Regions from separate parts of the Homo sapiens genome. Here regions 1 and 3 are each reported to be linked to region 2. Evidence: microRNA targets listed by miRTarBase, many of them from high-throughput screens and not tested one by one. Region 2 holds a microRNA gene; each other region holds the end of a gene's coding sequence.
Evidence for each region. Region 2 holds the annotated microRNA hsa-miR-3143 (AUAACAUUGUAAAGCGCUUCUUUCG, at 5,909-5,933, opposite strand). A microRNA usually pairs through its seed, bases 2 to 8, with sites in the 3' UTR of a target mRNA and lowers its output. Matches are read on the target gene's strand: a 7mer-m8 pairs with bases 2 to 8, a 7mer-A1 pairs with bases 2 to 7 and ends in A, and an 8mer does both.

Region 1: the mRNA of NDUFB5 is a reported target of hsa-miR-3143. Seed matches in the 3' UTR shown: 8mer at 1,519-1,526, 8mer at 1,634-1,641, 7mer-A1 at 2,318-2,324 and 7mer-A1 at 4,777-4,783.
Region 3: the mRNA of KMO is a reported target of hsa-miR-3143. Seed matches in the 3' UTR shown: 7mer-A1 at 9,935-9,941 and 7mer-A1 at 9,684-9,690.

The regions. Positions count from the first base shown.
Region 1 is chr3:179,622,817-179,633,182 of GRCh38, forward strand. NDUFB5 (NADH:ubiquinone oxidoreductase subunit B5) reads left to right here. Exons shown (of 6, transcript NM_002492.4): 6 at 1,104-4,831. The coding sequence ends at 1,224. Among named protein-coding and RNA genes, the nearest start is that of NDUFB5, 23 kb to the left of the region's middle.
Region 2 is chr6:27,142,512-27,153,561 of GRCh38, reverse strand. It overlaps MIR3143 (microRNA 3143), which reads right to left and starts at 5,936; the gene lies at 5,874-5,936. It overlaps H2BC12 (H2B clustered histone 12), which reads left to right and starts at 6,707. Exons shown (of 1, transcript NM_001312653.2): 1 at 6,707-7,201. The coding sequence starts at 6,764. The coding sequence ends at 7,144. It overlaps H2AC12 (H2A clustered histone 12), which reads right to left and starts at 6,456. Exons shown (of 1, transcript NM_080596.3): 1 at 6,000-6,456. The coding sequence starts at 6,433. The coding sequence ends at 6,047. RefSeq lists a silencer at 4,241-4,290 and enhancers at 6,070-6,319, 6,650-7,109, 6,364-7,280, 7,700-7,809.
Region 3 is chr1:241,591,187-241,602,236 of GRCh38, reverse strand. KMO (kynurenine 3-monooxygenase) reads right to left here. Exons shown (of 15, transcript NM_003679.5): 15 at 6,595-10,284. The coding sequence ends at 10,084. OPN3 (opsin 3) reads left to right here. Exons shown (of 4, transcript NM_014322.3): 3 at 4,240-4,491; 4 at 7,546-9,113. The coding sequence ends at 7,809. Among named protein-coding and RNA genes, the nearest start is that of CHML, 44 kb to the left of the region's middle.

The DNA.
Region 1 (10,366 bases), not on the chromosome of region 2:
CTATGAAAAACTATGTATTCTATAAAAACAGAAAGTAAAAGGTTTGATGGAGAAGGGACTACTTCAGGAATGTGTGATTGTTTGTGCAAAGACTTAGATATGGAAGAGGGAAAGCACCTGTATAAAATAAGAGATTATTCAATTTGTGAAGAAGGACAAGGACAAGTAAGTAGATGTTAGAGTTGGAGAATATTTTTCTTAATCTTGATTTTTCTTGCTTTCTATTTATGTTTGTATAAATATTGACTGAGTATCTGATGTTGACCGGGCCTGGTATAATGCTGGTGAATAAAAAACCAGTTCTACTCTCGAAAAGTTTTCTGTCCTAATGGTGATAGGCAGACACAAGATGTGAAACTCCAAAAAAGCTTATTCATTTGTTAATTCCTAACACCTGGCACAGCATATGGCCATAGTAGTAGACATTCTGTAAATGACTCTCCTAGCATCTAAAAGGTGAGAAGATAGGAAAAGCACTGTAACAATTCAGATGAAAGTGATCTGTGCAGGCACACTGAAGGAGAGAATTCGCTATCAATTTGAGTAATGTTTTGGTGTTAAAAACTGTTTGGTAGGCCGGGTGCGGTGGCTCACGCCTGTAATCCCAGCACTTTGGGAGGCCAAGGCAGGCAGATCACGACGAGGTCAGGAGTTAGAGACCAGCCTGGCCAACATGATAAAACCCTGTCTCCACTAAAAATACAAAAATTAGCTGGGCATGGTGGTGGGCCCCTGTAGTCCCAGCTACTTGGGAGGCTGAGGCAGGAGGATCACTTGAGCCTGGGAGGTAGAAGTTGCAGTGAGCTGAGACTGCGCCATAGCACTCTGACCTGGGCAACCGTGCAAGACTCCGTCTCAAAAAAACAAAAACAACAAAAAAACTGTTTGATAGCTATCTATATAAGCAACATAATAAAAGTCAAAAATAAGTCCCAAATTTTGGTTATAGATATATACCAGATGTATGCCTACATAAGGGTCTGTGGAGGAGCATTATACTTTACATAAAAGCAGACTCCAGTGATTGTCCTTTATGGAAATGGCTCATTAAATTTATAATTGGAAGTGCTGGAATCTCAATATTGCTGTTCCATTTGTTACAGGGTAAAGGAGCTGGAAGTGCGAAAATTGATGCATGTGAGAGGAGATGGACCCTGGTATTACTATGAGACAATTGACAAGGAACTTATTGATCATTCTCCGAAAGCAACTCCTGACAATTAAGCATTTTTTTCTCCAAATACAAAGTATATTCTCTTTATTGGAAAATAAATTAATAAATATATTCTGTATTTTTGCTCTCCGTGAAAAACAAAAGAGCCTCTGACATTACTGTCTCTCAGTGTTGGTTCAGATTGAGGCTTTTGTTTGAGGAGTTTGGCTTCCAGTCCCCAAAGAAGGTTTAAAATGTACTAATAAAAACTGGAGAAATAGGAATTTGTGAACTCCTAAAATTGTAGCAACTTTGAAAGGTTAGTGTTTTATTTACCTGACAAATGGAAGTTATAGAAGTCTAATAATGTTAAGCACCAGTAATTATAGTATTTTGTACAAATGCCTGTACTGTAGATGTCTGTATTATTGAGGGGCAACTCAGGATTTTAAGTTCCATAAAGTATTGAACCAACTCTAAAATGTTAACTCCTTAATAAACAGATTCTCAGTAAACAAATTTTAAAGTTTATAATGCTTTCATGGTTTTTTTTTTTGCCATGTATTGTTCTTTTTTAAACTACACACAGACACACAGACACGTACACACACACACACACACACACACACACACACGCTCTTTTCCTAGATGCAATCTCTGGGATCCCTTAGAGTCCTTTTTTGGGGAAGTAGTTGCACTAGGTAATGTGATTCCTGCAGAGATTATAAAATGTGAGTAAAAGCTAAAAATGACTCATTTATTAAGCATTTATTGTCTGCTAGACACTATATTAAATAACTGCATTTTTTAACATTATTTTCTTTTCTTTTTTTTTTTTTTTTTTTTTGACGAAATCTTGCACTGTCACCCAGGCTAGAGTGCAGTGCCGTGATCTCGGCTGCAACCTCCGCCTCCCGGGTTCAAGCAATTCTTGTCTCAGCCTCCCAAGTAGCTGGGATTACAGGCACCCACCACCACACCCGGCTAATTTTTGTATTTTTCAGTAAAGACTGTTTCGCTGTGTTGGCCAGGCTGGTCTTGAACTTCTGACCTCAGGTGATTGGCCTGTCTCCACTTCCCAAAGTGCTGATTACAGGCCTGAGCCACTGCACCCAACATTATTTTCAAAATGACAAGAGGTAGTATTTAGTACCTGAGGCTCAGATGTTAAACACAAACTCAGTATTTACAAAAATAAACATTTAAAACATTTACACTTCAACTTCCAAAATGGCTTTTTACCATAAACATTCAGGATTTTCAAACCTGTAACAGCTTATCAATGCATCTCATCTTAGAAGTATGTTTTACATTCTTCATAAAAATAAAAATGAACCCAGGCTTCCTAAGATTCAGGCCAGTGGGTCTCCACTTAAGGCCAAATGGAGAAATAATTTTTTGCTGCCTAAACACACAAGTGAATTGAAAAGCCACAGGCCATTCATTCAACAAATAACTTTATTATTTTTATTGATAATGTACTTGTAATGTGCTATTTTGATACATGTATGCAAAGTATAATGGTCAAATCAGGGTATTTGAATATACATATATTTCAAAATATAGTTATATATTTCAAAATAAGATATAGCAAGTTAGAAGTATATATAAGTATATTATTATATGTTATTGTTAACTATAATTTACCTACTGTACTATCAAATACTAGAACTTATTCCTTGTATCTAAATGTATTCTTGTAACCATTAACTAACTTTTCTGAATTTCCTACTCTCCCCTTCCCTTCCCAGCCTTGTAACCACCTTTCTACTCTGCCTCCATGAGACCCATTTTTTAATCTCCCACATATGAGTGAGAACATTCAATATTTGTCTTTCTAGGCTTGGCTTATTTCACTTACATTAATGACCTCCAGTTCCATCCATGTTGCTACAAATGACAGAATCCCATTCTTTTTCATAATATTGTCCATACATACCACATTTTCTATATCCATTTATCTGTTGATGGACACAGGTTGCAAAGGGATTGCTGGATTGTATGATAATTCTATGTGTAGTTTCTTGAGGAACCTTCATGGTGTTCTTCATAGTGGTTGTACTACTGTACATTCCTACCAATGGTGGATGAGCGTTCCCCTTTCTCCACATCCTCACAAGCATTTGTTATTTTTTCTTTTTTTTCAAATGAACATTTTAACTGGGGTGAGATATCTTAATGTGGTATTGGTTTACATTTCCCTAATTATGGTTGAGCATTTTTTCACATATCTAATGGCCATTCATATGTCTTCCTTTGAGAAATGTCTATACAGATCTCTGGCCCTTTTTTTAAATTTTTTTTTTTTTTGAATTGGGGTCACCCAGTCTGGAGGTGATCTGGGCTTCCACATCCTGGGCTCAAGTGATCATTCCACCTCAGGATGACCCAAATAGCTAGGACCAAAGGCGAGTGCCACCATGCTCAGCTAATTTTTTTGTATTTTTTGTAGCGACTGGGTTTCACCATGTTGCCCAGGCTGGTCTTGAACTCCTGTGCTCAAGTGATCCGCTCACCTTGGCCTCTCAAAGTGCAGGTACTTTAGGCGTGCCTGGCCTTTTTGTCCATTTTATTTTTTTGAGATGGAGTCTTGCTGTGTCACCCAGGCTGGAGTGCAGTGGTGCGATCTCGACTCAGTGCAACCTCCGCCTCCCAGGTTCAAGCAATTCTCCTGCCTCAGCCTCCTGAGTAGCTGGGATTACAGGTGTGCACCACCACACCCAGCTAATTTTTTTGTATTTTTAGTAGAGAGGGGGTGTCACCATGTTGGCCAGGGTGATCTTGAACTTCTGACCTTGTGATCCACCCACCTTGGTCTCCCAAAGTGCTGGGATTACAGGTGTGAGCCACTGCGCCCAGCCTGTCCATTTTTTAATCAGGTTATGGGTTTTTTGCTATTGAATTGTTTGAGTTCCTTATATATTCTGGTTATGAATCCCTTGTTAGATGGTGTGTTAGGCCATTCTTGTGTTGCTATAAAGAAAATCCTGAGTCTGGGTAATTTATAAAGAAAAAAGGTGTAAATGGCTCATAGTTCTGCAGACTGTACAGGAAGCATGGCACCAGCATTGCTTGGCTTCTGGGGAGGCCTCAAGGAACTTTCACTCATAGCAGAAAGCAAAGCAGGAGCAGGCACATCACATGGCAAGAGAGCAAGAGAGAGAGGTGGAGGAGATGCCACACACTGTTTTAAACAACCAGATCTCTCAGGAACTCATTGTTGTTAGAAAAGGAATTAAAAGAAATCAAAGAGTGTGTAAGCAGAAACTCAGTTGTACGTAAGAAAACCCAATTCCCCCTGAGAAAGAGAAAGAGCTGGAGTCCTTTAAAAATTCACTGCCTGTTTTTCTGGTGGCTAGTGAGTGTTAGCTCTCCTCCCTTCCCAGGCATTGTGAAGACCCTGTTTCCCTAGCTGTGCAGCTGCAAGGTCACTAGACAGATAAACTCAAGTCGCAAAACATGTTTTTCCTTGAAAAGTAAGAAATGATGTAATGCATGTCTTGACTGAATAACTGTCTTTGTTTCTTGCTTCTGTAATATGCTTCCCCCTGCACAGATCTCCCCCTGCCCCACGAAATGCTTAAAAGCTAACTTAACTCTTTGTTCAGGGCTCAGTCCTTTGGATGTTAATCTGACTGGGCCGGAGCACCTAAATAATAAATATTCTCCTGAACCCCATCGGTCTCTCTGATTCCTTAAAAATCCTGCAACATTGTGAGGACAGCATCAACAGGATGATGCTAAACGATTCGTGAGAAATTTGCCATTATGATCCAATCACCTCCCACCAGGCCCCACGTCCAACACTGGGAATCACATTTCAACATGAGAGTTGGGGGGACGAATATCCAAACTCTGTCATATGGATAGTTTGCAGATATTTTCTCCTACTCTGTAGGTTGTCTCTTCACTTTTTTAATTGCTTCCTTTGCTCTACAGAAGCTTTTGTAGCTCAACATAATCCCATCTGTCTTTCTATGTTTTTGTTGCCTGTGCTTTTGAGATCTTACCCAAAAAAATCTTTGCCCAGACCGATGTCCTCTATCATTTCCCCAATGTTTTCTTTTAATAGTTTTATAGTTTCAGGTCTTACATTTAATCTTTAATCCATTTCGAGTTGATTTTTATATATAGTGAAAGATGGGGATCTAGTTTCATTCTTCTGCATATGGATATCCGGTTTTCCCAGCACAATTTGTTGAAGACACTGGCAGCTATGTGGGATCTTTTGTAGTTCCATATACATCTTAGAATTTTTTTTTCTATTTTTGTGAAGAATGTCACTGGTATTGTGATAAGGATTGTATTGAATCTGTAGATTCCTTTGGGTAGTACAGACATTTTAACAATGTTGATTATTCCAATCCACGAGTATGGGATATCTACCTTTCCATTTTTTGGTGCCCTCTTCAATTTCTTTAATTAGTGTTGTATAGTGTTCCTTGTAGAGATCTTTCACTTCTTTGGATAAATTCATTCCTAGGTTTATGTTGTTGTTAGTTTGTTTTGTTTTTAGATTTCCCTATGCAATCTAATTACCACCTCATAATTCTGCCAAAGGATTTGGGAGAAGGGCATATTTTCTCTAAAGCCCCTGCTTATGCAAACCAGTTTGTAGAAGAGGGATAAAGAGAATTGAAGCAGATAGCTCTCGTACATGGTGATAGTAAATGATCCTAGATTTATATGCTTTGATATATTCACCTTAAAAAAATAACCTACAGGATGTTTTTTGACAGTTGTAGTTTTTACTTTATTTTCTCCTTTCTACTATTATAAATGTAAGAAAAGCTTAGAATAAAAAATATGGAAAATATACAATAAATACTGATAATCCTAACGTTCATAAAGACATTTCAGAAGTTTCCTCTAGGCTTTATTTAACACAGCTGGGATCACGTATAAAAAATGGGATCAGCTTTTGTGGTGGAGTGCGTGGCTCACGCCTGTAATCCCAGTACTTTGGGAGGATGAGGCAGGAGGATTGCTTGAGGTCAGGAGTTCAATGCCAGCCTGGCCAACATGGTGAAACCCTGTCTCTACTAAAAATACAAAAAATTAGCCGAACCTAGTAGCATACACCTGTAATTCCAGCTACTCAGGAGGCTGAGGCAAAAGAATCGCTTCAACTTGGGAGGCAGAAGTTGCAGTAAGCCAAGATCATGCCACTGAACTGCAGCCTGAGTGACAGAGCGAGACTGTCTCAAAAAAAAAAAAAAAAAAAAAGTAAAATAAAATGGGATTGACCTTTTTTTTCTTTTTTAAGTTGTAAAGTGTTTCTTGGGAAAAAAAAGTGTCAATTAAAGCTAATATATGTGTTTATATTGATTCTTATGCTAACTTTTTAAAAGTTCAAATAGTTAAACGTGTTCAATATTGGTCAAGGGAAAGAAAAAGGCACTTGGAGTAAGCACTTGGAGTAAGCTATGGGGTCCCAAGGTAGCCCAAGGGTTACTGGAATGACTGTGAGCTGTAACCCGAGGATGCGTGGAGGGAGGGGAAGAATACCATATTCCAAGTAGAGAAAATAAGAGGCAAGAGAAAATTGAAATGAAAACCGTTTGGAGAAGCCTGAAATATAGGGCATAAGTGAGTGAGGTGAGAGTGCGGATGAGATTATTTGCACTATTTCAGCTCTCGGTGAAGATTTGGATCTCATCCTAAGGACCATGAGATGTCATTGAAGTGTTTTAAATGGGGAAATGACATGATTGGATTTGTTTTTTAAAGATCACGCTGGCTACATGGCGGAGAACAAATTAAAGATAGTGAGTGTAAATTATTCATTCTCAATGGAATCAATATTATCCTTAAAGGGGACAAAAATTGGTTCTTGGGGGATAAAAAGATCTTACTTTTTTATGTACAAAGCATAGCTATACATACATGAGCAGATATATAGTACATTTGTGGTATTAAAATTTTATGGTAGGGGAAGGAACAATTTGGGGAAAAAAATCTAACATGCTCCATAGGGGGTGATAGTGGAAAAAATGATTGAGAAAAACTGACATAAATGCAGGGAAAACCAGTTGGAAAGTTGTTCTGATCATCCAAGTGAGAGATGGTGATCACAAGGTGAGGCCAGTAGCAATGGGGATGGATGAAAACAAATGTAAGAAATTGAATGATATTGAGGTGATAGAATTAACAAGACTTGGTGAATCAACTGAGTGTTTTGGGAAATGGAAATAAGGAGTGAAGCATAAATCCTATTTCTGGATTAACCAATGGGGTATTGCTGCTGTTTGCTGAAATGGGGAGGATCGATAGGAGAAACAGTTTTGATACAGAAGACGAGTTCAGTTTTGGACTTGATTTTGAGGTGCTCCAGATCCCTGCAGACCTTCTCTCCCATATAGTGTAGGGAGATAAAAGGACCTAGGACAGAGTCCTGGGAGACAGTAATATTCATGGCAAAAGAAAATGAGAAGGTGGTGTCACAGAAGCTAAGAGAAGAAAGTGTTTTGAGAGGGAAAAGTAAGGACTAAAAGATTAAAAGAGTTGATTTAGCAACCCGGGGGCCATTCGTGACCTCAATGGAAACAGATGCTATGGTTGAGTGGAACAGAAGCCAGTTTAGGCCGAGGAAGACGGGGAGTGATGGAAGGGAGGCAACTTCAAGACATTTGGCAGTGCAGAGGAGAAAAGAGGTAGGTAAATTTAACAGCACATGGAGGAGCTAGTCAATGGACAATTTGTGGGGAGAGGCTTCCATATATTAAATGCTGAGCAGAAAGGGTAGTAGAGAGGGAGAGGTTGAAGATAGAGATTAAAAAAAGGAGTACTTGATGGGCTGAGATATCTGGGAAGGCAGGAGGAAAGGAGATCCTAGGGAGGTGAAGGGAAAGATTAGGCAGTAGGTTTGGTGGTAGGAGGCTGGCATAGTTCTTACCTGATAATTTCTCTTTTTTGCTGGTGCAAGAGGAAAGGTCATCTGCTGAGAGGGTAAGGGGAAGTGGGATTTTGAGAAAACTGAGAAAAGAAAGTAGTTGCAGAGAATAGGAGAGTGAGATAACATGGGGAAAGTGGTCTTTTGACTAAGCATCATCGAGAGCCCATTTGAGATTGGCAACCATTTATTCATTGTGGCACTACCTGTGAAGTTGGTGGCCTCTTTTGGCAGCACTTAGTAGCCTGAGTGCATGTGCAGGGAAGGTAGATGTTGGAGGATGAAGGTTGCTTGGACAGGAGCAATGGAAGGACCATGGGGAAAGGAAACCTATGGCATTAAGGAGAGTGTCTGACACAATGAACCAGGAAATAATCTTCTTAGGGGAGGAAGTGAAGTGGGGAAGTGTGACGTTTAGATTGAAGAACTGGTGTATTATGCAAAATTGAGCATGGAAGCTGGAAGGATTTGAAGTTGTCTTCAAAGAGCGGACTCTCATTCCATTCTGCTTCTAATTAGCTCTTTATATCCTTGCTCATCTGGTATAGATCCCTGTTACTCAACTAAATTATATTGGTATCCTTCCTTCCAGTTTCCCCTTACTGCAAACCTTTCACCATACTTACCCAAAGTGATCTTTCTAATTTTTAAATCTAATCACACCCTCTGATCTTTAATAGCCTTCAGGTAGTGGCCTGAAACACTGTCTAATCTTTTTTTCTTTCTTTCTTTTTTTTTTTTTTTTTTGAGATGGGAGTCTCATTCTGTCACCCAGGCTGGAGTGCCGTGGCGTGATCTCGGCTCACCGTAACCTCTGCCTTCTGGGTTCAAGTGATTCTCCTGCCTCAGCCTCCTGAGTAGCTGGGACTACAGGTGCCCACCACCGTGCCTGGCTAATTTTTGTATTTTTAGTAGAAATGGGGTTTTGTCATGTTGGCCAGGCTGGTCTTGAACTCCTGACCTCCGGTGATCCACCTGCCTCAGCCTCCCAAAGCACGGGATTACAGGTGTGAGCCACCACGCCCAGCTGAACACTGTCTAATCTTACCCCCTACAAGTTCTCACATCACTCTGGCCCATAAACTTACTAAGCAACTTGCTCTTCCCAGAATAAGCCACATTGTCACATCTGCCATTTGAATGACTGATCATATTCTCATTCTTCAAGTCTTAGCTCAGAAGCTACCTCCTTTATGAAGTCAAAGGTGAACGCGTGCCATCCTGAATTCTTCCATAGGATGGCATTTTAAAAAATTGTTATGACATTTTCTATTGTATTAGGCTGTATACAAATCATCAGGTCTTACTGACCTGACAGCTCCTTTAGAAAAGGTGCCATGCTTATTCATCTTATTATCCCCAGCTCGTTTCGTACCCTCTGGAACACAGTAGACACTGAGTAAAGATCTGTTGAGTGGATGATATATGGGATTAACATGGTTTGGGGTTATCTTTATTCTTTTTTATTTTTATTTTTTAGACAGAGTCTCTGTCACCCAGACCAGAGTGCAGTGGCATGATCTTGGCTTACTGCAACCTCCACATCCCAGGTTCAAGTGATCTTCGTGCCTCAGCCTCTGGAGTAGCTGGGATTGCAAGCGTGTACCACCAGGCCCATTTAATTTTTGTATTTTTAGTAGAGATGGGGTTTCGCCATGTTGTCCAGACCGGTTTCCAACTCCTGACCTCAGGTGATCCGCCCACCTCCCAAAGTGCTGGGATTACAGGCGTGAGCCACTGCGCCCAGCCAGGTTTTGGGTTATCTTTAAATAATCTTTTTTCTTTTCTGCAATTCTACAGGAGCCCGGCATTATAAAAAGACATGGTGTAAGTTGAACAGACTTCAGACTAAATCCAATCACAAAGAAACATTGAACAAACAAACAAAAAATAAACACTTTATTTTGAAAACAGTGAGTGGACTGTGTTCATTAAAAATGTGAATATAGGCTGGGCGTGGGCTCACACCTATAATCCCAGCACTTTGGAGACCGAGGCGGACAGATCACCTGAGTTAGGGAGTTCGAGACCAGCCTGACCAACATGGAGAAACCCCGTCTCTACTAAAAATACAAAATTAGCCAGGCGTGGTGGCACATGACTGTAATTCCAGCTAGTCGGGAGGCTGAGGCAGGAGAATCGCTTGAACCCAGGAAGCGGAGGTTGCAGTGAGCTGAGATTGTGCAATTGCACTCCAGCCTGGGCAAGAAAAGCAAAACTCCATGTCAAAAAAAAAAAAAAAAAAGAATATAATCCAGGTGTGGTGGCTCATGCCTGTAATCCCAGGACAGCAGTTTGGAGGCAAAGGTGGAAGGATTGCT
Region 2 (11,050 bases):
ATTCTAGGAAGGTGAAGACTAACATTTTAGTTTTAAAGTAGGATTATGAACAAACTGGCATCACCCCCATGAGCTGGCTGTGATTTCACAAATTCCATGTTGGAATGCAATGCAGACTTTTCACTTGAGAAAAGGATAGTACATGCCAAAGGGCAAAAGGGATGGACTGTGCTAGATATTTACTTTTGCCAGCCTAGATTCACTGTCCTCTTCTTTTTTTTTTTTTTTTTTTTCTCTGAGACAGAGTCTCGCTCTGTCACCCAGGCTGGAGTGCAGTGGTGCAATCTTGGCTCACTACAACCTCTGCCTCCTAGGTTCAAGCGATTCTTCTGCCTCAGCCTCCCAAGTAGCTGGGATTACAGGCGGCCACCACCATGCCCAGCTAATTTTTGTATTTTTAGTAGAGACGGGGTTTCACCATGTTGGCCAGGATGGTCTTGATATCCTGACCTTGTGATATGCCCACCTCGGCCTCCCAAAGTGCTGGGATTACAGGCGTGAGCCACCGTGCCCGGCCCACTGTCCCCTTCTTTCATCCTGTGTCCCTAGGAGGCTGATCTATACATGAATTTGATCCTTGTCCTTTGGCTGCTGGTCAAATTTGGCTGATGAAAAGTGAAAATATGTCAGAGAGAGGAAGGAGTTCTTTCTGTTTCCAGATTTCCTTTCCTCTCATTGCCCCTTTGGGCCTAGGTGTGGTAATTACTTATATATGGTATTAGCTTCAAAATACTGCACTATCTCTTGTGGCTTCCTAACACCTTGCTCACTTCTTTTTCAATCTTCAAGCACCCAATTGGTTGTTGTTGTTGTTGTTGTTGTTTGTTTGTTTTTTGAGACGGAGTCTTGCTCTGTCACCCAGGCTGGAGTGCAGTGGTGCAATCTCAGCTCACTGCAACCTCCGCCTCCTGGGTTCAAGGTCCTGCCTCAGTCTCCTGAGTAGCTGGGATTACAGGTGCCCACCACCACGCCTGGCTAATTTTTTTGTATTTTTAGTAGAGACGGGGTTTCACCATGTTGGCCAGGCTGGCCTCGAACTCTGGACCTCAAGTGATCTGCCCGCCTCGGCCTCCCAAAATGTTGGGGTTACAGGCATGAGTCACTGCATCAGGCCCAAAGTACCCAATTTGAAGGACTAATCTCTCCTGATGGGACACTGGCTGACATATTGACCTCTTTTAGCTTATATGCTGCTGTGTTTACAGATATTAAATGAAAATACAAATAAGATATTTACTTTCAAAATATAGTCATTGACATGGAGTTTAAACCCATAAGAACAGATGATCTTAGCCAAAAGGCTGAAAACACTTGGTCTTAGCCAAAAGGCTGAGAAGCGGTGATGATGTGGAGTTTAAGAACCTGATCTGGGCTGGGCGCGGAAGATCACGCCTCTAATCCCAGCACTTTGGGAGGCTGAGGCCGGCAGATCACGAGGTCAGGAGATTGAGACTGTCCTGGCTAACACAGTGAAACCCCATCTGTAGAAAAAATACAAAAAACCTAGCAGGGAGCGGTGGCACGCGCCTGTAATCCCAGCTACTTGGGAGGCTGAGGTAGGAGAATCACTTGAACCCAGGAGGCGGAGGTTGCAGTGAGCGAAGATCGCGCCACTGCACTCCAGCCTGGACTACCGAGCAAGACTCCGTCTCAAAAAAATAAAAAAAGAACTTGATCTGGTAAACCCAGAAGGCATAACGAGAACTAAGAATAAGAGAATACCTCATTGAGGAGGTGCCATATTATGAAAATTGAAGAATGAATAGGAGTTACCCAAGGAGAGGCTGGTAGGACAAACACTCTGGGCTTGGGAAATCGCAAGTGCAAAGCTACAGGAGTACCAGATAGAATCAGACAGACCAATCCCTGAATACACTTTCTAATTCCAGTCCGTTAATTTTATTAAATCTTACAGCTTCAAGTAAATTAGAAAATGCACTGGTTTCTTCAAAAATGGCAATTTTGCTGTGAATAGAAAAAAGTTAGCAATTCTGCTGTGAATAAAGTTAGCTTTTAATAAGTCAAGCAATATCAACGTACACCAGCAATTTTACCTCCTTTTTTTTTTTTTTTTTTTTTTTTTGGTGTTTTCCTTTGTGTGATTCCAAGGCATATTTGGGATCTCAAGTTGATTTACTGATGGCCAGTTCTGAGTCCAGATACCAGTCAGCCTTGTAAACAATCACTATTCCTCCCAGGTGTTTACTATTACACATAGAATCTAGCTTCCCAGGTAAGTGAAGCCATGTCAATAGTTAGCCTGATATAAAATTATATTATTCCGTCTTTAGTTAAGCACCCTTCATTATCCATAATCACATATATTTCCCATATTTTGTCATTGTTAATTATTTAAATCATGCAGCTCCTCTGGGGTATAAACCTTCACATATTTTTAGATGTGACTTTACTATTTTGATTTTCTCAGAATTATTCCTTACAAGGAATGCATGACAACGACTCCATCTGTAATAGGTATGAAGATGAGGGGGAAGGGCGGAACTGAGGAAAAGCATGTATGTATGCATTTTAAAAATTGTGTGTGTTTTAAAAATATATTTTTTTAAAGTATATATTTTAAGTGTGATTCCCATTTTCAGGAATCTTTAGCTATTCACTTTAAACTATTGTAAACACTGTTTGAATAATTAAGTCTAGTTTTATTCTTTCTCATTTGGTATCTATTAATTCAGATATGATCATGATACTCTTCTGGTAGAACCTTTCAACATCTCCCTTTAACAATTCTTACCCAAGTTTCTATATACCTTAGACTAAAGCACATGAGACCAGATAGTTAAGAGAAGGCAGTTATGTGTGTGTTCCATGTTGAGTAGATAATATTCTGATAGCTTTTTCTCCTACTAATTGAGAATCTGATTGGATAAGTAACACCACACTTTCTTTTCCAAATTAGAGTCCAAACAATACCCACCTCAAAAGGTTGTGAGAAATAAATAAGCACATTCATATTGCATATGTAGCCCATAAGTGGTCGGCACCAAATATCTCTTATAGGTGTTTTTTTTTTTTTTTTTTTTTTTTTTGAGCTGGAGTCTCACTCTGTCACCCAGGCTGGAGTACAGTGGCACAATCTCGGCTCACTGCAACCTCCGCCTTCCGGGCTCAAGCAATTCTCCTGCCTCAGCCTCCCAAGTAGCTGGGACTATAGGCAGCTGCCACCACGCCCGGCTAAGTTTTTGTGTTGGGATTACAGGCATGAACCACCGCACCCAGCCTAAAATGTGTTTCCACCTGGTTTCGAACCAGGGACCTTTCACGTGTGAGACTAACGTGATAACCACCATACTACAGAAACTCATTCCATGGTTTTTTTAAAGGTTTCCTCTCCTCTCTTTTGAGCCTCAAATATTCATTCTGAAGTTTCTTCAGTATGGGGCAAAGCTGGATTATTTCTCAGTACAGGAAAAGTAAAGAGATTTGCTGAATCTGGGGTAGGAAAAGTTAGTGGAAGAATCTCCCATTTCTTTTATAATTGTTTTCTATCACCTTCCATGTGCAATGATTGAGGCATTTAAAGCTCTTACAGGAGTATATCAAACTAATAAAGATTTTTAGAATGTCTGTACATTTTCTTATTTCTCTAAAAAGAAAAGACCCGCCCCTCCCCGGCCTTTAAATTCCCTGATGAAAGTAATTACAGGCTCATGCCTGTAATCCTGGCACTTTGGGAGGCCAAGGCAGGCAGATCACCTGAGGTCAGGAGTTCGAGACCAGCCTGACCAACATGGTGAAACCTTGACTCTACTAAAATTACAAAATTAGCCGGGAGTGGTGGCACACACCAGTAATCCCAGCTACTCAGGAGGCTGAAGCAGGAGAATCGCTTGAATCTGGGAGGTGGAGGTTGCAGTGAGCCGAGATCAGGCCATTGCACTCCAGCCTGGGCAAGAAGAGCAAAACTTCATCTCAAAAAAAAAAAAAAGAAAAAGAAAAAAAGTCAAAGAGCAATACCAGCTATGCACTTATGCATGCTAAAGTCAGTCTCACAGATACTATCATAGACCTTACTTAACATTGATATTTATATTCATGTTAATATATGTCATAGACATGGAAATACACTGCCCAGATCCTCCTTCAAGGAAGGGCTTGCAGCCCAACTGCAGAGAGCACAGTTAGCAGATAGACACCAGCTGTTAGCTTCCTCAGTGTTTGCCTCAGCTGCAGAGCTCCTCCCCACTCAAGGCTGCATCCTTCCCCGGGCAGTCCTCATTCAGTGACCCACAGAGGAGTTAAAAAGGGTGGTCTAGAGCCCCTTTGGCCCAATGTGGGGGCAACTTGACAGGCATACTGGCTCCAGAGCTCTCCACTGGGTTGGTTGAGCATTTGTCTGGCCTGTATCATAGTTTGACATTTTCCTTTGCCCAATCCTATTTCCTTCACCCCTTCACAGATATTGAGCCCTAATAAACATTTTGCATCCCAAACTCCATCTCAGCATCTGTTTATCGAGAACTCATATGTCACTACATTATAATTTCTCGTTCTGCATCTCTTGCATTTCTTTTTCAATTGGGCTTCTGCATGCAAAGACTGGGAGTAGCAAACAAATCTATGTGTATTGAATTACAAACTATGTCCTCTTAAATCTTTGTGAAATACATAAAGTTAATACTATTTTTTGGTGTCTTTTTTAAGTGGCTTGAATTCCGTAGAGAAAAAATAAAGATGTATACATGTAATATTTCAATTAATATATATCCTATCCCCATAGGCATAGAGAGCGTAATGGGGCCCTCCATTTTAGAGAGGAGATAAACAAAGATGACCTCTTTATAGGTGTTACTTGATCAGAGACCTACATAGATTGAAAAAAAGTGAGAAAGGTAGTTATCAGGGGAAGAGGGAATTTAAAGTGCAAAGGCCTTAAGACAGAAAATGTGTTTGGCATTTTGTGGGAATAGCCAGAAAGCCTTGAGGCTATGAAGTAAAAGCAGGCCAAGTAATATCAAGAGGGGGTGGGGCGGAGGAAGGAAACTCATAGGGCTTCCTAGGGTAGGTAAATTAATGTGGACAAGCAATCAAAAGCAATAGCAATCCCGATCTAATAAATTTGATAATACAAATTAGCTAGACAGAAAAAGCTATGTTGTATCCTAAGCTACTACAAGAGTGCATTAATACACCTGCTCCAAAGAAATGGGACTAAGGATTTACAAATATGGGATTCAGGAAATTCTGCATCCCATATTCTCCTTCCATCGGAATCAAATTCTAATGCAAATGAGTCACTAGACTTTCATCACCTGGGTAAAGTTACTCTTAAGAGTTAGACCACTTAAGAATCAGGCTGCCCTTTCTTGCTTTTCAAGAATACTTAGAATTGCAAAATTTGCCTTTAAAGAATGGCAAGTATATCCCATTTTTATGGCTGTTTGACAACACTATTAATGTAATAGAATTATTACACTGGAGGCCGGGCGCTGTGGCTCACGCCTGTAATCCCAGCACTTTGGGAGGCCGAGGCGGGCGGATCACCTGAGGTCAGGAGTTCGAGACCAGCCTGGCCACCATGGTGGAACCCCGTCTCCACTAAAAATACAAAAAAACTAGCCGGTCGTGGTGGTGTGTGCCTGTAATCCCAGCTATTCGGGAGGCCGAGACAGGAGAATCGCTTGAACCTGGGAGGTGGAGGTTGCAGTGAGCCGAGATCGCGCCGCGCCACTGCACTCCAGCCTGTTGGAGACTCCATCTCAAAAAAAAAAAAAAAAAAAAAAAAACCACTGGAATTAGTAAATAGATTTCAGGGATTTGTACGTTTGATTTCACTTATTACCCCTGCTGAATAAGCTTCTCCGGAGTATCCTACAACAACTTTTGGGTCTTCATTGCTTTCCAGTGGGTTAATTTAGAAACATTGTAAAGAGTTGCTCCAGCCCAACCGCGAAAGAAGCGCTTTACAATGTTATCTAGCGAAGCAAACATGAAGTGAAACAAACATGACTGTGTCCAGCTTTCTCTAAGACAGTGTAGAATGGCTCTGAAAAGAGCCTTTGTTTTCCAGTTTTCACAACCTCGCTCCTTATTTGGCCTTATGGTGGCTCTCAGTCTTCTTAGGCAGCAGCACGGCCTGGATATTGGGCAAGACACCACCCTGCGCGATGGTGACTTTGCCCAGCAGCTTGTTGAGCTCCTCGTCGTTGCGGATGGCCAGTTGGAGGTGACGCGGGATGATACGGGTCTTCTTGTTGTCGCGGGCCGCATTGCCAGCCAGCTCCAGGATCTCAGCGGTCAGGTACTCCAGCACCGCAGCCAGGTACACTGGCGCGCCGGCTCCAACCCGCTCGGCATAATTACCCTTGCGGAGCAGGCGGTGCACTCGGCCCACGGGGAACTGAAGCCCAGCCCGAGAAGAGCGGGTCTTGGCCTTGGCGCGAGCTTTACCGCCTTGCTTGCCACGTCCAGACATACTGGTCACAACTTACTGAAAGTAGCCAACGAGGAAAGGCAGCGCCTTTTATAAACACTATTGGGCGCGAAAAAGAAGATATGTCATTGGTTAGGGTTGTAGCTTAGTTTTAACCAATGGAAGTACGTCTTTTGGATTTGCAGATTGGGTTGATTGGGTATAACTAACCTCTGACGTCACCCTAATAACCACCAATCAGATACAGGACTTTCACTCTTCACCTTATTTGCATGAGAGGTCCTATATAAAAACGACTCCTGGTACCTTGCTCCCATTACTTCCCGTTTTCTCGATCTGCTGCTCGTCTCAGGCTCGTAGTTCGCCTTCAACATGCCGGAACCAGCGAAGTCCGCTCCCGCGCCCAAGAAGGGCTCGAAGAAAGCCGTGACTAAGGCGCAGAAGAAGGACGGCAAGAAGCGCAAGCGCAGCCGCAAGGAGAGCTACTCCGTATACGTGTACAAGGTGCTGAAGCAGGTCCACCCCGACACCGGCATCTCCTCTAAGGCCATGGGAATCATGAACTCCTTCGTCAACGACATCTTCGAACGCATCGCGGGTGAGGCTTCCCGCCTGGCGCATTACAACAAGCGCTCGACCATCACCTCCAGGGAGATCCAGACGGCCGTGCGCCTGCTGCTGCCCGGGGAGTTGGCCAAGCACGCCGTGTCCGAGGGCACCAAGGCCGTCACCAAGTACACCAGCGCTAAGTAAACTTGCCAAGTAAGCGTCTTAAAGCCCAACCCCAAAGGCTCTTTTAAGAGCCACTTAAATTATCGATATTAGAGCTGTAAACACGTGTTCCTAATCCAGGCTTAAATTCGGGCGATCTTTTTAAAGGGATTATCATGATCTTATCACACTGAGTAATGCATGCAGTGCTTGTAATCGAGTCTGGCTAAGGAGAAGCCACATACACTTTGTTAGTACTGAGTGAGGAATATGGCGCCTAAAAAATTAGGGATGTGCAGGAAACTTGTGTTAACAGAAAGTGCTTCCTGGCTCTTGGCGCGAAAATGGATACTTCCGTTGTGTCGAGTGCTGTGACTTCCTGTTAGAACTTGTTGAAAGCCTATTGTGTCACGTGTACTTTCCACCATGTAATGGCGTTCTAACGTGAGTTTATATATTAGTAAATTTGGTTCCCGATGGCGTTCCAGTACGTATGGCTTTCGCTCGAGCAGTTACCTTATTTAACCTCTTCTAGGCTGTACCCAGCTCTGCCTTGCTTTGCTTCCCCCTCACCCCCTGATTCCATCTCTGCAGCCCACGGGACATCGGGAAGATGCCAGACCACCAGGCAGGATAGTCTGCAAGGGTAAGGGGAGGAGCACAGCTTTTCTCAGGAGTGAAGAAACGGAACATGAAATCATCACGGAGATTTTTGGAATAGTTTACTAGTTTTTAAGGCATGTTCAGCGTCAATTGGTCCAATCAGTAATTTTTCCTTTTGACAAGAAAGCTTATAGAAAAGGAAAATGAAAAGCAAGTAGATTCAGAGGGGAGACAACAGACAGACTAGAGACAGTCCGCCCCGAAGCAAGAAGTTGGAGTAGAGGAGAAGGGAACTTCCCCAGCAGCACAGGGTTTGAGCTAAGTGTTAGGTGGTGGGTTAGAATTAGGTGGTGGGTTTTATTGTGTGATTAGAGGCTAGAATGACTATGCCGGTGATGAGCAGTGTGAAACTTTTTTGGAAGAACCAAGTGAAAGAAAGAGTCCACGAATTTTAAGCTAGGTTGTTACCTGGCTAAATTTGTGATTTAGAAATGTAGGCCAGTTTCACAGGGGAATTTTGTGTGTGTGTGTGTGTGTGTGTGTGTGTGTGTGTGTGTGTGTATTTAACATATTTGGCCACGCATTGTTCTAGTCTTTGGGGATATTGCCCGCCCTTAGGCATTTGGAGATTAGCAGGGTCATATTGAAAAACTTCATACATGCAAAGCATATGTTCACTGTTGATCCAAGTCTTATTTATCCTACCAGTAATTTTGGGGTTACATTAATATTCTAAGAAATGTATCAACAAATAATTATATTTATTGTTTACCTATATAGGAGGCACTGATCTATATCTATACCTATATAGGAGGGCAGATCACTTGAAGTCAGGAATTCAAAACCAGCATGGCTAACATAGTGTGAAACCCCGTCTCTACTAACAGTACAAAAATTAGGGGGGGCGTGGTAGCATGTGCCCGTAGTCCCAGCTACTCGGGAGGCTGAGGCAGAATTGCTGGAAGCCAGGAGGCAAAGGTTGCAGTGAGCCTAGATCACCTCACTGCACTCCAGCCTGGGCAACAGAGCAAAACTCCGTCGCAAATAAAATTAAAAAATAAACTAAAATACACTATGCCAATGAATTCTACCTTCAGGTATACCTGACTACTTTTTATAGACTAAAATTTTTACTCTGGAGCTATCTGCTGTTATTACCTTTAGACTTACAAACTATTTTTGCAAATGGACATATCATCTTGATTTTATACAATTTACTTTCAGTCCTTTTTGCTCTTTTTACAAAATTCTGGAAGTGCATTTGTGTTTTAATAGAAATACTGGGTGGAAGTGGCCATAACTTTCTCCTGCTTTCACCCTCACCCCTTTTCTCCCTTCAAAATGATCTCATTTTATTTCTCTTGATAGCACAGATTCCGCCCCCCCCCCCCCCCCCAGACAGAGTCTCACTCTGTTGCCCAGGCTGGAGTGCAACGGCGAGATCTTGGCTCACTGCAACCTCCGCCTCCCAGGTTCAAGCGATTATCTTGCCTCAGTTTCCCGAATGACTGGTATTACAAGTGCCTGCCACCATGCCCAGCTAATTTTTGTATTTTTAGTAGAGATGGGGTTTCAACATGTTGGCCAGGCTGGTCTGGAACTCCCGACCTTGGGCGATCCACCTGCCTCGGCCTCCTAAAGTGCTAGGATTACAGGTGTGAGCCACCACGCCCGGCTGATAGCACAGAATTTAACAGCTTGAAGGAATCAAAAAGTTCAGATCACTGTTATTTTACAAATAGCTAAATGGATGCAAAGCTTACTTTGCTCAAATCATTAGACTCAGAACAAGATTCCATTATGCTCTTGTTTGTTTCCATTATACCATATATCTCTTTGTCATCTATTTTCTCATTAGCCACGTGTATTAATTTGACTTAATTTGGAGCAAAAATAGGGCTCTTTTAACTTATTTATTTGTATATTTCATAATCTCTTTTAAATTGTTAAAAAGTTGAATGTGCTAAATTGTCTCCTGTCTCATAAATTTTTTTTTTTTTTTTTTTTTTTAAAGAGTAGTTCAGTGCTTTGCAATAATTGCTGTGTGATTCTGGACCACAGCAATTCAATCTAGCAATTGTTACAGCCTGCTGAAGAACGCTTGCACAGAATAATTGCCTGCTTCAGATTCTCCCATCCTTTGGGAAACTGAGAGTAGCTCTGGGATTGAAAAGTGGAGGTTTATTTAACTGTGGTTAGGGACTTGGCAATCATATGTTTGGTCTCTGCTGTTATCTAGTATCTTTAAGTCTAGAAGTTGGAAGTAAAGAGGTCAGTGGACCTAAGAAAATGGCATGGCTTTCTACCCTAGATGAGCTGGAAAAACTTAGTAATTCTTCAAGTGCTTAATACAAAGGAGCAAATCTCACAACTCAATGCCTATGAATTGTAATATATCATGTCACTACTTTCTTGATATTACCTGAGGTATAAGTACAGTTGGGAGAAGACCTTATCTCTATCTTCAGGAATATAAGTGAAGGAAAGGAAATTTTTTTCTTTTTTTTGAGACAGTCTTACTCTGTCGCCAAGGCTGGAGTGCAGTGGCACTGTGTCAGCTCACTGCAACCTCTGTCTCCTTTGTTCAAGCAATTATCCTGCCTCAGCCTCCTGAGTAGCTGGGATTACAGGTGCCCACCACCATGCCTGGCTAGTTTTTATATTTTTAGTAGAGATGGGATTTCACCATGTTGGCCAGGCTGGTCCTGAACTCCTGACTTAAGGTGATCCACCTGCCTTGGCCTCCCAAAGTGCTGGCGTGAACCGGGCCAGTGAGCCACCGCACTGGGCCTGGGAAATTTGTTCATTTGCTTTATCCTACTTTCTCATTCTTTATTGAACTAGGATTTTTTTGTCTTTATTGTATGTGTCTGAAAGCCAGTTTGTTACTCTTAAGACACTACTCAAATAGAAATATAATGTGGCCACGTGCGATGGCTCATGCCTGTAATCCCAGCACTTTGGGAGGCCGAGGTGGGTGGATCACAAGATCAGGAGTTTGAGACCTGCCTGGCCAGTATGGTGAAACCCCGTCTCTGCTAAAAATACAAAAATTAGTTGGGCATGGTTTCACATGAGTGTAGTCCCAGCTGCTTGGGAGGCTGAGGCAGGAGAATGGCTTGAACCCGGGAGGCTGAGGTTGCAGTGAGCCAAAATTGTGCCACTGCACTCGAACCTGGGCGACAGAGCGAGACTGTCTCAAAAAAAAAAAAAAAAAAAAGGAGGGGGGGAATGTAATACGTCATACATGTACTTATCTTTCCAGTAACCATTTTTAAAAGTTAAAAAAAATTGTCTGGGCACAGTGGCTCAAGCCTGTAATCCCGGCACTTTGGGAGGCCGAGG
Region 3 (11,050 bases), not on the chromosome of region 2:
CGCCTTTCTCTGCTGTCTTTGTTGCTGACTCTCTGGCGCCATCTTCTTATCTCTTCCAAGGGCTTCTCTTCTTTGGGCCTCCCCAGCATCCTATGTTTAGCTCTTGTCCCATGCTACACACTGGCCTTGGGTGGTCTTTCATACTGCCAGGATTTCTCCTTCTGACACAAGCTTGATAACATCTCCATTTCCAGTTCAGGTCTTTCTTCCAGCCTCTAACAGATCCTCGTAGTCAATTGCCTCTTGAACACCTCCACTTGGATGGTCCACAGACTCATCAAATTTAACAAATATAAAGATTAATTTGTCATATTTTCCCTAAAATCTTCTGCTCGTCTATTTGCTTTCTCATTGAATAGTCATCATTCCTAGATACCAAGACCAGAAATTAGGGAGTAATCTTTGACTATGTGTCATCCATGTCTCCCCCAACACACAACTATTGATCAGTTCTTATCCATGCCACTTACATGTTTTTTTGTTTCGTTTTGTTTCTGTTTGTTTGTTTGTTTTGTTTTGTTTTGTTTTTTGAGACGAAGTTTTACTCTTATTGCCCAGGCTGGAGTGCAATGGCAGAATCTCGGCTCACTGCAACCTCCGCCTCACAGGTTCAAGCAATTCTCCTGCCTCAGCCTCCTGAGTAGCTGGGATTACAGGTGCCCACCACCATGCCTGGCTAATTTTTAAAATATTTTTAGTAGAGATGGGGTTTCACCATGTTGGCCAGGCTGGTTTCGAACTCCTGACCTCATGATCTGCCCGCCTTGGCCTCCCAAAGTGCTAGGATTACAGGTGTGAGCCACTGCTCCTAGCCCTATATTTTTTGGTATATCCATTTTTTCCTCTCCCACTGCCACAGACTCAGTTAAAAAAAAAAAACTTAGTTCTCCTTTTTAAAATTTTTGCTTTCCTCTATTCCATTCTTTACACACTGCCATCAGAGTAGTTGTTCTCAAGTATTACCTTCAGAAGTTCCACTGTCTTTGTGACTCAAAATAAAGCCCCTGGGTGTGGCCGGCAGGTCCTGTATGGCATCTCCTGTCTACCTGTCCAGCCTCATTTCTTGACACTCCTGTCTTCTTGCCACCTCATGATGCGGCCAATGGTAATATTTCTTGTTTTCAGAAACTGACTTTTTATTTTGCCTCTTGTCTTAGCACACTTTCTTTCTCTGGAACATTCTGTCTCTCCTCCTTACTTGACTAATTCCTCCTTCCCTCACAAGGCTAACAGCACGATTTTCTTGCTCTAACCCACCCTCAGAACCAGTTTCCCATCCTGTGTACTACCATATCCTCCCTGTTTACCTCCCTCATGGCTTCTACCCGCTCAGTGTGCATCATCCTCACCAAATAGTGAATTCCTCAAGAGCAGAGACTGGGTCTTATGTATTTTCTCACCTGTGACTGGAACAGTGTCTGCATGTAGTAGGTAATCAGTGACTATTTTTGGAATGAGTTACAAGCAGAGGGCATAGAAAGGGGAAGACAGGAGAAGGGGTGAAAGTGTGAAGAGATTTGACTTTAGCTGCTATCTAAACAGAGAGCTCACTGCAAGTAATTTGCCTCCGTTTCCTTATTCAGAGAGAGGTGACTCATAACAACGATGGAGACATAGCTACACACTTGAGAATGAAGATTCACAGTGAAATTCTTTGAAAATCTACAGATGTCTTGGATTAAGGAGCACTAGGCACCAGCCATTTATACAGCCAGAGAACAATCTGATAGAGAATTCTGAAGAATTTGTCTTAGCTGGTTCATTCTTTAGGACAAATTTGTGCCTGTGCCAATCATTTCAAAATTGCTTCATCCATAGCAATTTTGAAAACTATCCTCAAATGATTGAATAAAGAGGGTAAGACATGAAATCGAGTTTTTTATTTGGAAAATATTTAATGAGCAGAATGAAGGAATAGAAAGTAATGAAAGAAAGAGGCCTGAAAAAGATAAATAAAAAATAATCATGAAAACTTCACATATATAAACCCAAATAATCTAAAACATTAGTCAATATCTTCTCCTTATCCCAAAGAGGAACTGGGGATGTATAGACAAACATTTATTTAAATTAATTTCCCCAGCATGCATGTAATTCCAAGATGGATAAATGAGTGTTCTCCTTTGATAAATGGCGAGAGGGGATAAAGACTGACCTGCCCAGAAAATGGTACAGATAAAACGATTGGACCTAAATACTGGAGGTTTGGGAGGCAGATAACTGAGATGTGGTTATGTTGCTTGTTAATTGAAACTCTGAAGAGTCAATAATGATTCCAGATATCCTATAGTATCATAAATGTACATATACATACAAGTGTGTTAGTCTCATATCTAGTTCAAATATAAATAAGTATTTAACCTCAAAAACAACCCCACAAAGTCATACGTGTGGAAATGGAACTCAAGTTCTGTTAATTCTCATAGGTTTTTTTGCTTTACCTCCTTTCTTGTTTACTCTTAGAGGAGGTTGTTGACTTGCTCAATATCACACTGCGAGCAAAAGTGGTTAATCTGGGATATAAACTTAGATCTTCTAATTCCAAATCTAGACCTTTTATCAAAACCCCACAGCCTTCCTATAAACTAGGGAAGCTCCCCCAAAATGATGTTTTGAAAATAGAAAAATATTCTATCCCATTAAATAAAACAGTTTCTTTTAAAATAGAATTGCACACACAGAATAGTAGTATTCGGTTGGTGCAAAAGTAATTGCGGTTTTTGCCGTTAAAGGTAAACCTTTAAAGGTAACCTTTTTTAAAGGTAAATTATTTACCTTTCTGCACACCAAAAATATGTTCCTAAATAAAAATAGTTATCTCTGAACATTGTAATAAGTTATATGAATTTTACTACAAAAATACAAATACTTTATATATTGATTTTTTAAAGTAATTGGCATAGTGGTAAAGGAATATTATTTACCTTTAAATAAGGTGACCTTCAAAGGTTTACCTTTAATGGCAAAAACCACAATTACTTTTGCACCAAACTAATACCAGAAATTTAATACCCACTTTTCCCTGCACATAGTCTCTCTACCCTAAAAAAATCAATGATTTAAATTTTTCCTATTTCTCTCTATTCTTTGCTAATCTGAATACATGATTTTGATAAGAATATAATTTCTTAAATATAATTTTGGATATCAGTAATTTGAGAATTTTAATTAAAATATATTTCTAAATAATCTAAGCACATGTTCTAAATGATTTCTTTGGAAATTCTTTCTCTTAATTTTTATGATAATGCTAGAACCAAAAGGTACACTTAGAGTTCATTGAAATGCAGTAAATTTCCAGGCATAAAGTAATCAATACTAAGTATTAACTATATGCTAACTACTTAAAAAATCAATATATAGAGTATTTGTATTTTTGTAGTATAATTCATATAACTTATTACAATGTTTAGAGAGAACTATTTTGATTTAGGAACACATTTTTGGTGTGCAGAAATATTCTTTGCCTGTGTATTATTATGACACATATATAATAATAGGAGAAACAGCAAAAAGAAACATATTCAAGAAACTCAAAGAACTTTCAGGCTGTACATCATTACTCCTCCATCCCTTTAATGGGAACAGACTGCGAGTAGACAGGCTGGTTTTAGAGGAAGGAGTTGTTTTACCAAGTGCTGTTCTCTGCAAGTGATCCCCTAATGAAGCCAATCACAAACAAATTTCTCCTGAAATTCTACTTTACAGTCATTAGCAGTGAATTGAAAAGCTGGTTTTCAGTAAGAATTCACTTGGGAATTAAGTGCTCATCAAGGCCAGCTGCAGGCTTAATCATGCAGAACACCTGACATGACATGGGTGTGCAGTCTGATTTGAGAACTGGAGGACTAACACTCTATAGAGTTTCCAGGATCACAGGGAAATTCTTTGCATTTTATCGTGACTCTCTCAGGCTGTCTTTTAGAGACTTGAAGATCTAGGCAAAATAATGTTATTCTTATTAAGTAAATAAGAGAACGTCAAAAAAAACACTGAAGGATGTAGGAGGCTCTGTAGCTCAACCACCCTATGTTGTAAGTGGGGAGACTGAGGCCCGGCAAGGTTAAAGCTGGACTCAGCTATGAGTCTTGGATCAGAAGTCAGCCTGCCAAGGTGCCATTCAGTTCTCTTTCCATTTAGGTGGGGCCAAGAATGGTGTCTGAATATCTGTTATAAAAACAACAAAAGAAACCCTTCTTTTGTTTTTTAAGCCCTTTCCTTTCTTTCTCCTTTCTGCAGCTTCGTTGTGTGGAAGATCTTCAGACAATTCAAGTGATCAAGATTTTAAAATATGAAAAGAAACTGGCCAAAATGTGCTTTTTAATGATATTCACCTTCCTGGTCTGTTGGATGCCTTATATCGTGATCTGCTTCTTGGTGGTTAATGGTCATGGTCACCTGGTCACTCCAACAATATCTATTGTTTCGTACCTCTTTGCTAAATCGAACACTGTATACAATCCAGTGATTTATGTCTTCATGATCAGAAAGGTAAGCTTTGCAATTAACTGATTGTTTTCACCCTGGGCATAGAGTTGGAAATGACAGTGTAATACTTTTACAGAGGTGATTCAGAGTCGCTTCAATTAAAAAAAAAACAAGAATTTTTTAGGAATTAAAGGGATCTGGAAGAAATGTAGAATATTTCCAAAGAAAATCATAACAATTCTAAGAACTACCCATAGGGATTCACACTTGTTAGGTAGAATTCTAGTAAAACTAATATTTAATTCATCAGAAAATAGTTTATGCCTAGTAATAACAGCTACAATGTTAATAATACATTTAAAATTCCTACTGTACCAAGCAAGTTACAAGCAAGTCACAAACAAGTTACAAGCCAGTTTACAAAACTCCACAAAATAGGCACTAATATTATTCCTTGTTTTATTTATGGGTTATGAATAAGTTCAGAGAAGTTAAATAACTTGCCCAATCCAGGAAGTATTGGTGCCAGGATTTGAACCTAGTTTGCTCAAATCCCCAAATCCAGTGCTTATAACTCCTCACTTGGGGTTATAGATACTTGTAGCAATTGGCCTGGGTTGTTATTCACATGCCACAGCAAATGTCTAGCCTAAATTAATTTGGTTCAAGAAACTTCCTGGGCCTGGTGTGGTGGCTCAAGCCAGTAAACCCAGCACTTGGGCATGCTGAGGCAGAAGGATTGCTTGAGCTAAGAGTTCAAGACCAACCTGGGCAACATAATGAGATGCCCCGCTCTCTCAAAAAAAAAAAAGAAAAAATTAGCTGGGCATGGTGGCATGTGCCTTAGTCGCAGCTACTCAGGGGCCTGAGATGAAAGGATCTCTTGAGCCCAGGAGGTCAAGGCTGCAGTGACCCACTATCGCACCAGTGCATTCCAGCCTGGGCGACAGAGCGAGACCCTGTCTCAAAAAGAAGAGGAACTTCCTTATCATCTGTTTCTGTAGTTGAAAGGTTTTGACTTGATGGCTATGAGTCATGGCTAGGAGAGCCCACAAAATGATTATTATAAAGCTGAGCCTCTACGTTTCAGAGAATTTAAAAGTTAAAGATAATGCTTAATTACTCCATTGGAATTTTAAAGATAACAGGTCATAATAATAACAGGCAATAATAATCACTGTGACTTCTAATGCTCAAGAATGTGGAAGAAGAGGGCACTTTTGTAATAACCTTATTATGTTCAGTGCTAAATCTCTCTGCCTCTTATTTTGCCTTTCCTTCTCTTTGAGTATTATTGGCTTACACTCTCCATAAACTCACTTTCACCTGCCTTAATCTCCTCTCACTGACAGTGTTTCTTTCCCTGTTTTGTTGCCTTCAATTGGTCTATTTCCTTTAACCCAGAGATTTTAAACTTGGAGTCCATAGGACCTAAACATTCCTTGAGTTGGCCTCAGAAGAGCCACTGAAACCCTGGAAATTGTTTATAACAATTTTTTAGTATGCACACATATGAATTTTTCTAGTGAGATGGTTTATAACTTTAATTTTCTATCAGAGGTTAAGATATTTTAGGGACCACCCTCTCAACAGACAAAATTAAAATACATTAACTAACAATTATTTGTTGCACTCTTTCTCTCAGCCAATGGGCTATAAATTAGTGCTTCTAGAACTTTAATGTGCATACACCACACCTGGAAATCTTGTAATAAATGAATATTCTCCTTCAGTATGTATGGTTGCCCAATATTCTGCATGTCTAACAAGCTCCCACATGGTCCTGATGTTTCTGGTTCCTAAGGGCATACTTTAAACAGGAAGTCTAAAAGATACAAACAAAAACAAATAAATAAAAACAACGGTCCTTGTCCTCAAAGAGCTTACCATTTATATGGAAAAACGTTTTTTGGCATACATACTCTATTTAACCTTTACAGTAATGTATCTTTAACACTTAACCAAACAATGGTTTAGTGAATAAAGTCTCAAACAAATATTTTTATTTTTTAAATTTTTGAATCAGATAGAAAAAATAAATATTTTTAAATGTGAGTATAAACTGAATGCTAACTTGCATAAGATTGGAGCTCAAGACATTATCAGGCAGTGTTTGCTGTAAAACAAAACAAAACAAAAAACAAACAAAAAAGACAGAAATCAATGTAGCTATTTATTATATTTTTAATTGGTATTTCCTAATCTGAGAAAGTCCATATATTCAACATTTATTTCGCTCTAAATAATGGGATAACAATTACATTAACTTTTGATTTATGTTTTACTGGTCATGATGGACCGACTACTATAACAAGCAACCCCAACATTTCAGTGAATTAATACAGAGTTTATTGCTCATTTCAGGTCACAGTTCAGTCTAATAATGTATTGGGTGGAGGAGATGGGATCTGTCCTATGCAGTCATTTAGGAATCTAGGTTCCTTCCATTGTGTGATATTATGATCTTTAGGCGTTGGCCTCCCAGGTTCTTGTAGAGAGGAACAGCAGAGAGGAGAAGCGGAAAGGAGGCCAAGAAATATTATTCGATGTTGTACCCAGGACACGGAGAAGAACAATGTTTGTTGATGACATTAGTGCTGTCTGCTATAGTATTTTTTTCCCCAACTGATTAGTAATTTCGATAGAAAAAAAAAATTCTTCACCTAATTAAAGAGACATTAGCAAGTACACCAGGCTGTAAACTCTGCCAGGAAGAGCCTTATCTGTTTTTGATGCTTATAGTAAAAAGTCTCTAATTATAGCACAGTGGCTGTCACCTAGTAGATGCCCACTGAATATTTGTGGACTAACTTAATGTTCAAAATCTCTTAATAGTTGTACCTGCCCTCATAGAAAGTGTGTGCAGATTGAAGCTTGGAGGATTACAAGGTATTGAAATGGTCCTACATATTCCGGTTAATAAGAATTAGAATGAATAAAAGACATAAAGCTCTGGGGTGATTTAGGTAGATCTGAGCATGACCACATAACCCCACATCCACACCTGCTAACAAACAAAAAACAACTTAAATTCAGCTCAACTGATTTCCTCGAATGTTAATCCAGATTAGTGCCCAACTTTTACTTAATATTCCACTTTATTTTTTCTCTGCCCAGTTTCGAAGATCCCTTTTGCAGCTTCTGTGCCTCCGACTGCTGAGGTGCCAGAGGCCTGCTAAAGACCTACCAGCAGCTGGAAGTGAAATGCAGATCAGACCCATTGTGATGTCACAGAAAGATGGGGACAGGCCAAAGAAAAAAGTGACTTTCAACTCTTCTTCCATCATTTTTATCATCACCAGTGATGAATCACTGTCAGTTGACGACAGCGACAAAACCAATGGGTCCAAAGTTGATGTAATCCAAGTTCGTCCTTTGTAGGAATGAAGAATGGCAACGAAAGATGGGGCCTTAAATTGGATGCCACTTTTGGACTTTCATCATAAGAAGTGTCTGGAATACCCGTTCTATGTAATATCAACAGAACCTTGTGGTCCAGCAGGAAATCCGAATTGCCCATATGCTCTTGGGCCTCAGGAAGAGGTTGAACAAAAACAAATTCTTTTAATTCAACGGGTGCTTTACATAATGAAAAAACCACTTGTGGCACACGATGGGCATCTAACATCATCATCTTCTAATGTGTTGGAGATTTTCATTTCAAATATATTTTTTAAATTACTCTATTTTCCAAAACACGTAATGCATTTTTCTCGAAAATACCTTACTGTAAAAATAACTGTCGCGTACACATGTGTGAAGTAGCTAGAACATACTGAATTTTTTTTGTACTGTTGGACTCTATTCAGTGTCATGTCCTATATCTGATCAAGTTATCAAGGAGATAATTCTAGAATGAAAAAGAAAATCCTCTTGTTGGAAACAAAAGACGTTTTATATGTGCAGTATGACAAAGAGGAGTTTCAGAGACAACTTTGAATCCTTGTCAGCCTGGAGACCAGCACCAGAGGAATCTACAAGGCAAACTCCCATATATTTGCTTCCCCCAAATTGCTGCCCCTACAGACTCAAAGCTCTTTTTCTTTGTTTTGTTGTTTCTCTAAAAATTTACTGTTCTTTGTCGATGCTATATAAGCCAGGGAGTTCTAAGACGCCAGCTCTTTGAGATTTGCTCATTCCCCTGTATTTCCCACATATATATTACATATACCCGCTAATAAATTTATGTTTGTTTTTCTCTTGTCAATCTGTCTTTTGTTATAGGGGCCCCAGCCAAGGAACCTAAAGTGGGTAGAAGGAAAAATTATTTTTTCTTTCCCTACAAACTGAACATGGATTATTAGAACTCAAGGTTTTCATTGACAATATAGAAAAGAAACACTGAATCATTTTATTTTATTGCCCAATTTTTATTTCTTATATGACTCTAGTGTTTCATCTTCATAATTAATCATGTTTGAAGGATTTCTGAGTGACTCAGCAGCCTGTTAAAGAAGGATGAACCAAAGAAAACATTTCACTAAATGTGCTTTTAAAAATCAAGTGTATTGCTGGTTCTGCTGCAGTATGTAGTCGAAGAATAAATTAGTAAATTGCTTCTGAGGGTCTGAAATTGAATAAAGTAATGGCTTTGTATTTCTATAAAAGTTGTCTCCCCTTGTTTCCTTTCCATTCTGGCACATGTAGACATTTAATTTATGAATAAAACCCTTTCCTGTCCTTCACTTAGTATGATATTAATAGCCTTTTTCTTATCTTTAGAGGGTAACTCTGGGCTGGCAGCGGTGGCTCACAACTCTAATCCCTGTACTTTGGGAGGCTGAGGTGGGCAGATCACATGAGGCCAGGAGTTTGAGACTGGCCTGGGCAGCATGGCAAGACCCGGTCTCTACTGAAAAATACCATGGTAGCCCCAGCTATTTGGGAGGCTGAAGTGGGAGGATTGCTTGAGCCCAGGAGGCAGAGGTTGCAGTGAACCCAGATCTCACCACTGCACTCCAGCCTGGTCAACAGAGTGAGACCTGATCTCTAAATACATAAATAAATAGAGATAGATAGATAGATAGATAGATAGATAGATAGATAGATAGATGATAGATAGATAGATAGATGATAGATAGATAGACGATAAACAGATAGATGATAATACTTATATTTGAAGGTGGGAAAATAAAATGAGTTCATTTTGTAAGTCTCTGGAACTCCCCTGAATTCCTTATTTCCATTTCTGGTTTTATCTAGTAAGTCTGAGCCCTGTGGTTAGGTAAGTTCCATTCACGTAATGAAAAGTGCAGTTAACATGCTAGTTAAGTTGTGATTTTTAGTCCTAGGTGTTGAGTCAATGCTGTTGCGAGTCCTATTGTGTCTTTTAAAGAAAAGGCATGATTACTGTCTTCCCTGAGGCATCTAGGGCCTTACTTTCAGAGAAGTGAAGGATCTTAGTCATTGCACTTTTATAGTTAGAATGACTCAACCTGAGTGTGTGTAATGTAGGGAAGCTGCATGTTTCATCTTTTAAAATGCACCCCCCAACCAGTAATTGCAATTAACATACAGAGATACTCTACATTCAGTTTAATTATAAGCAGAACACTATCTTCCACTAGTGAATCAAATATGGCAATGGAAACATTTTTTTCATGCTTAATTTTGGTCACAGAGAAATCATGCATTTGCTACCACAAAACCTTTCTATCACCTGCTAATGAGATTGGAAATTTGTTCTAGGGAGTCCACGGCCTTTGCGGGGAAACATGTTGTATTCCGGAAGTGAGCTATCCAGTTCCATGGTCTTCTCAAGCGGAGGAAAGATCGTGGTGACATGTAGTGTATAAGTAGGTAGGTACTGCTGATGGCTATCAGTGATCCCAAGAAAAAGAGTCCTTTGTTTATCACCTGTAAGACAGCAAGAACTCTCATTTCATTTGTCCAGAGATTAAAATCTGAAAATAGACTTCATTTTTTAACAACAAAGGGGTAAACAATGTCCTCTTTGTTCTTTAACCTGAAACAACAATTTACTTGCATGACCACCAGATCAGGAACTGATAAGATCAAGATAAAGTCAAGGATTGGGAGCCTCCCTTCTCCCTCTCTCCCAGGAAACTCATGAATCCAGGTCTTCTGTATGAAAAAAATTTAGCAGTCAGCTTTTGTCCAGCCATTAAAAAACCTTTGCAGTTTAGAAAAAGAGCTGTGAATTCTTAGAAGAGTACTGCTGTGCTGGGGCCACACATCATTCATTCCTTCTCAGAAGCTTCCCAAAAGTCTCCAGGAGAAGAGTGGTGGCCTGGTGGCCTCTGTGACTAAGACTTATGTGGAGACTAAACACCAGCTGTAAACAGTGGCCTGAGGCTCATTCCAGCCTGAGTCAGGTGCTTTCCCATGGCATCCTGGCCTATTTCTTTTCTTTTTTTTTTTTTGACAGAGAAATCTACTTGAATACTCACATGTAAAAGTTACACATCACAAGAGATTGGACAGTAGCTTAGCATAACTAACATAGCTATAGTGAAAATCATTTTTATAAAAAATAATCTAGATGTGGTCATCAGAATTTTTGGTCTGCTTAAGTTAATGTTTGAAGATTGACTTTTATCCCTCCTTGAAGGATTTGCCTGGCCTATTTCTATCCCCGCACTTACTGTCCTGCATTCTAACT